Regions from separate parts of the Homo sapiens genome. Here region 1 is linked to region 2. The links come from fine-mapping of genetic effects on gene expression. A gene starts in region 2. The other region holds a variant in brackets. All regions are shown on one strand. Distances are between the middles of the regions.

The links. PIP is the estimated chance that this variant, and not a neighbour inherited with it, causes the effect.
Region 1: its variant is fine-mapped to the expression of DDX5 in gastroesophageal junction (GTEx, PIP above 0.99).

The regions. Positions count from the first base shown.
Region 1 is chr17:65,327,418-65,330,329 of GRCh38, forward strand. No RefSeq gene overlaps it. Among named protein-coding and RNA genes, the nearest start is that of LINC02563, 130 kb to the right of the region's middle. The variant G/A (reference allele first, on the strand shown) is at 1,434.
Region 2 is chr17:64,504,840-64,507,739 of GRCh38, forward strand. It overlaps DDX5 (DEAD-box helicase 5), which reads right to left and starts at 1,450. Exons shown (of 13, transcript NM_004396.5): 1 at 1,237-1,450; 2 at 1-3. The coding sequence starts at 1,280. It overlaps CEP95 (centrosomal protein 95), which reads left to right and starts at 2,138. Exons shown (of 20, transcript NM_138363.3): 1 at 2,138-2,277. The coding sequence starts at 2,259. RefSeq lists a silencer at 541-610 and enhancers at 701-910, 971-1,100, 1,801-2,040, 2,241-2,330, 2,312-2,900 and 1 more.

The sequences.
Region 1 (2,912 bases), 820 kb after region 2:
CTCTGTTGCCTTTCCCTTCTGTCTTACTGAAGTTCAGTGATTTCATACTTTGATAGTCGTGATTTTCTCAAAAGTTATGCGACCTTTTTCCACTCCCAAGTTCTGAAACAGGAGAAACCTGGGCCAGGTGTGGTAGCTTATGCCAGTAATCCCAGCACTTTGGGAGGCCAAGGTTGGAGGATGGCTTGAGGCCAGTAGTTTTAGACCAGCCCGGGCAACATAGGGAGACCCCATCTCTAAAAAAAAAAAAGAATAAAAATTAATTGGATGTAGTGTCTTATGCCTGTAGTCCCAGCTATTAGGGAAGTAGAGGTGGGAGGATCGCTTGAGCCCAGGGGGTCAAGGATGCAGTAAGCTGTGATCATGCCACTGCATTCCAGCCTTGGCAACAGAGTAAGACCCTGTGAAAGAAAGAAAGAGAGAGAGAGAGAGAGAAACCAAGAAAGAAAGAAAGAAACCAAGAAACCAAGGAACAAAGGAAGGAAGGAAGGAAGGAAGGAAAGAACCAAGGAACCAAGGAAAGAACCTGCGCCCTTAAGCCTAACTCAAAACAAAGCACGGGAGATCAATTGTCTTCCAATGATGGGAGGAAACGTACATGTTACTGTTGCCAAAGAAGGAAGAGAATCTTTGGAGTCCAGAGTCTTTTCCTATGCTCATGTAGGCCTAAGGCTGCTCTAGGAAGTGTTAAAAGCACCTGTCAGAACAGGAAGTGAGATGACCTCTAGGTTAGGCAGGGAATCTGAGCTAGGGCCTGACCTCCTGGTCCTCTTTTACTTCATATCACTTCATACTGACTGTCCTGTGGTTGAACAAAATGGAACCAAATTTGTTGCAGACCATGAGTCTGGTCCTTGGTTTTGCTCAAGAGGGTTCTGCTCATGAGCCTTTGTTGGCAGTGCAGTGATGCTGGCTCACAGTGAGCAGAGAAGGCCTTTAGGCTGAGACCAACCCTTTTTGTCTGTACCTTTAAGGTGACCTCCAATTGGAGCATTTGTCTGTACCTTTAAGGTGATCTCCAACTGGACCTCCAACTGGAGCTCCAATTGTGCACATCAATGGCACAGTAATTTTCCTGAGTGCAAGAACATCTAATTCAATTTCTGTCCTTAGTACTTGGCCTTGCTCACCACTCTGTGATAGCCAGCCTCCAAGATGGTCCCCAATCATTCTTGTTTTCTGAGGCTCACACCCAGTGCAAACCCCTCCCACACTGAGTAGGGCCAACCTGAATAAGGCTGGCCCATGAGTGAACATGATATTGCAGAAATGATAGTGACTACTTAGCCAAGGTTGTAAAACATATTGCAGCTTCCTCATTGCTCTTTCTTAAATCACTTGCTGTAGGAGAAGCCAGTTGCCATGGTGTGAGGGTGCTCAAGGAACCCTATGGAGAGGTCACATGACAAGGAACCAAAGTCTCCTGCCAACAT[G/A]TGAGTGAATGAGCCACTTGGAAGCAGATCCTCCAGGCTGAATCAAGCCTTCAGACAACTGTAACCCCAGCTGACCTCTTGACTACAGTCTCAGGGAGGACCCTGAGCTGGGACCACCCAGCTAAGCTGCTCTTGAATTCCTGAGCTGTAGAAATTATAAAAGATAATACAAGTTTATCGTTGTTGCTAAATTTTGGGGGTAATCTATCGCACAGTAACAGCTGATACATTCTCCACAAATTCTTGGTGAATGAATGAATGAATAAAAAATGAATGAATAAATATGACAAGGTCTTACAAGACTTACTGGTCAGTGCTATTGAAAAGAGGCAAATGGCCCATGTCCTGCCACAAAATGCCTCAATACCTGTCAATGCAGCAGGAAGGAAGTGGAAAGCCTGACATGGCTCCCGTTCTACCAAAATAAACTCATTTTCCACCAGTCCCCATCAGGCAAGGTCCTTTCCCCTGTGCCCCCAACAGACCATCCTAAATATCTGATACCTGTTCCTTCATACATCAACACTATTGCATGGGCTCTCTACCTTCTCTGGAGGCTCTTCCCTAATTCTTTCTCCTGGTAATTCCTACTTATATCTTTAAAAAATGAGAAGTTATTTTTATTTATTTTTTTTGAAATGGAGTTTCACTCTTGTTGCCCAGGCTGGAGTGCAGCGGTGTGATCTCGGCTCACTGCAACCTCTGCCTCCCGGGTTCAAGTGATTCTCCTGCCTCAGCCTCCCAAGTAGCTGGGATTACAGGCATGCACCACCATGCCTGGCTAATTTTGTATTTTTAGTAGAGATGGAGCTTCACCATGTTTGCCAGGCTGGTATTGAGCTCCTGACCTCAGGTGATCCACCTGCCTTGACCTCCCAAAAAAATAAGAATTAAAAAAATGTCCAGAGTGAACTTATGAATCCCTATAAATCCTCCAGGGACTGTGGACCCCAGTTTAAGAAACTGAACAATATGATGGAATATTATAGTCATTTAAATGGATATTTTAGAAGAGTCCATGATAAGAAAAATGTTTGTTAGATACTGTTAACTGAAAAAGAAAAACATGCACACTTGAACAAATATTACATCACGTAATATTTGTTGTTACTTATATTATTAATAAGTATGATATAGTTGTATGTATAAATGTATGGATAACAAAATAAATCCTTCCAGGTATTAAGTCTTATGTAAAAAATAAAATAAAATACATCCTCACATAAACTTAGAGGTAAGTCGATTGAGAGAGGGAGAGTATACATAAAATGCTAAGAGTTCACCTCCCCAGGAGAGTATGATGAATAATTTTTAAAATAATTTTTTGATGTTCTGTAATGTCCAGATTTCTACAATGAACATGTGTACAGTGCTTATAATTAGAAAAAAATGAGGTTTTTTTTTTTTTTTTGAAAGGCTGAAGACAGGGCTTGTGGCTGACTCCTCAGGCTCTGGGAGAAATTCTGCTCCTGGGGGCTG
Region 2 (2,900 bases):
AACCTGGAATGAAAAAAAACGTTATTCACATTTTCAAATGGCTATACCCAGGTTTCTGTATAGATTTGTCATCCATTGGCACAAGCTAAAAACCACTGAAAACAGACTTCGAGAGGTAAACCTAGCACTGTCCTTCGTGAAAATCTCTCTCTCTCTCAACAGCCACAGTTAACATTTCCCGTAGTCCCAAGTACACATTACTTAGGTCATGTAAACAGCCTGGGATTTATCATGTCGGAAGCCGGGGATTTATCATGTCGGAAACTTGTCACCCACATGCCAGAATTTGGGATTCTGGCACACACCACTTCTTGTGGTTACTGTAATCTTCCCCACCAGCCTAGCAATTCACTATCAGCAATAACAAGGCTACATGAACCGAAGAGCATCACGACGATGTTACTCATATGGCCGTTTTGGAACCAAACAGCTTTAGTGGTAAGAACCTAAACAGTACAGTCAGCGATAACAGAACAAGGGTTTTCTCAGAAACACTTCTGCTAGCAAACCCAGCTGGGGGAACGCCGCGGTAGAGCTCCGGATCAACGAATCAAAATTATATAACGCAGGAAAAAAGAAAAGGAGGAGCCGGCGACTACCGGGGGAGGAGTCCCGGCCCGGGCGGAGTCGGCCGGGCGGCGTTCCCGCTGGGGCGGCGCTTCCCCCTTTGTCTCGCATTTCTCTCTGCGCCACATTTTCTCGACGCTGCCATTTTGAGCTCCTCCGCCGGGCGGGGTAACAAAGGCGCCGCCGCCATGTCCGAGGCCGGCATTTTGTACTCGCGACTCAGCCACATGGCTGATGCCGGCCGCCCTCCTACCCCAACAGCACCAGGGCTTTGGAAGTGGTCCCCTCGCTCCCACAGAATGCCCGGCCACCCCAAAAACACCTCCCGAAACGCCGCACCTAACAGATGTTCCTTCGTCTGCCTCGAAGCGTCCCGCTTTCATCCGCACAATACGCTCCCTCTCAACTCCCTCAACAGCTACCAAATGGCAGCCGCCCCGACAGCTCCCCAATCCCCACACAAAAAGCAAGCTTGAAGACACTACACCGTCAAATCTCTTCCAATCACTGTGACGTGAATATCAAAATGGCGCAAGCCTTCGGGAAAGGAAGTCCCAAGATAGCCCGGAAAGGCCAAGTCCAAGCCGCAAAGCCCCCGCCGGCCGCCACCCTGACCCGCCCTCCCATCCCCCCACCCGCCAGGCCTGACAGCTCGGCTCCCAAACTCACCCTCGGTCCCGGCCGCGGTCTCGGTCACTCGAATAACCCGACATGGCGTCAATGGTTGCGGTTGGCGGGGAACGAAGTATATAGAAAAGCGTGCGACAAGTCGCTGGAAATGGCCTCGATGACGGCGAAGCCTTGCGGGGGCGGCAGCGGAGGAAGGACACCGATGACACCAGCCGAAGCTGCACTACTAGAGACCGGTAGAAATGAATGAGGTGCCGGCCGCTTTCCGGCAGCCGCTTTTATAGTCTGGACCGCCTCCTACGCCGCAGGGAACGCTGGGAGCCGCTCTATGACCTAATCGCCCCGCCCCTCGCGCATAGGCCGCAACGCCCGCTGGCGTTCCAGGATCGCCGCGCTTTCACCCCTCCCCGCGCCACTCTCTCAGGTCAGGGCCCACCCACCATTGGAATGCCTCATTCTGCACTCTCTTGACCTCACCTTCTTCTGGTCTTTCCACACCTCAAGCAAGCCACCCCGCCCTTTCCCAAGCCCAGCCCCGCCCACCCTCGCCACTCGGAGATGTTTACGTCTCCAAAGAGCCCTCACGTCTGTAACCAAAAGAGGGGGAAGGCGGGGCCTGGCGTTGTCACGTGGCTGTACCACCCCGGACCACCGAGAGAGCGGTCCGCACTACTTTCCCGTTGACGTCGGCGGAGGGATACAAAACGAAATAGCTCACCGGAAGTGCGCTGCTCGCACCCCGGGACCCGCCCGGGCTGCCGGCTGATGTGGACCGTCCGACCCGCGTGTCTGATAATCCTTTGACGGGTTTTGGTCGGCGGAGAATGGTCTCTAAACTTCCCAAACCGCCCCCGTTTCACGTCCTGTGAAAGGAAGTGCTCCTCTGATGACCAATCAGCGGCGAGAAGCTCTTTTAACGTCCGTCCTTCTTTCACGCCTCCTTCCCCGCGCTTTGGTTCGTGCGTCCGCGCCCCAGTGTCGGGTCTGCGTGGATCGGTCCTTCCAGGACACCGTCGCCTTCCCGGCCGCGTCGGAGTCCGGCGGCGACCTGCCTCTGAAACATGGCAGGCTCGGATGCTGGTGAGTGTCTCCCTGGGGTCCCAGTATGTGTGGACTGAAACCGTCCACCTCCAGGGAGGCCTCGGGCTAGCCCGGACTGGGTCTGGGCTGTCGGCGGGGCTCGTGACCTTCAGACGCCGCGTCGCGCTGGCGGGTTCCCTGGATAGGGTCTCTCAGCTTCACCACCTCTTCGCTTCGAGGCCGTGGAACAGCAGTATGCTGTGGGAGAGAGAGAGGCACTGGGGCGAGGCCGGTAGGACACTTGGGTCCTGGCTGTAAAAAGAGCGGTCAGAAGGGTCGTCCCCGGACTTGTCTTTCTGTGGGGCGTCTAGCCGCTGTCCGTGTGCCCTCCGCCCTTGCACTATGGGCCCTGAGGTCGTACCTGCTTTTGTATTGGTCTTTAAAGGAACAGCATTCTTAAGATTTATTATGCCCCTGCAGAATAGTAGAATATGCCCCTGTAGAATAGTTGTGCTTTTTTCTCTTCAGTGCCCTCTAGAGTCATGGGCTTTGTCTAGCACCGCTTTTGAAGAGCGAATTAATTTGGTTGTCTAGGACGCTTTCATCCTTTTCACAAGGACTGCGTACAAACCAGTTGTCATGGTTTGGCCAGCTGTGAGAAATGGGCGTGGGGAGGGGGATTA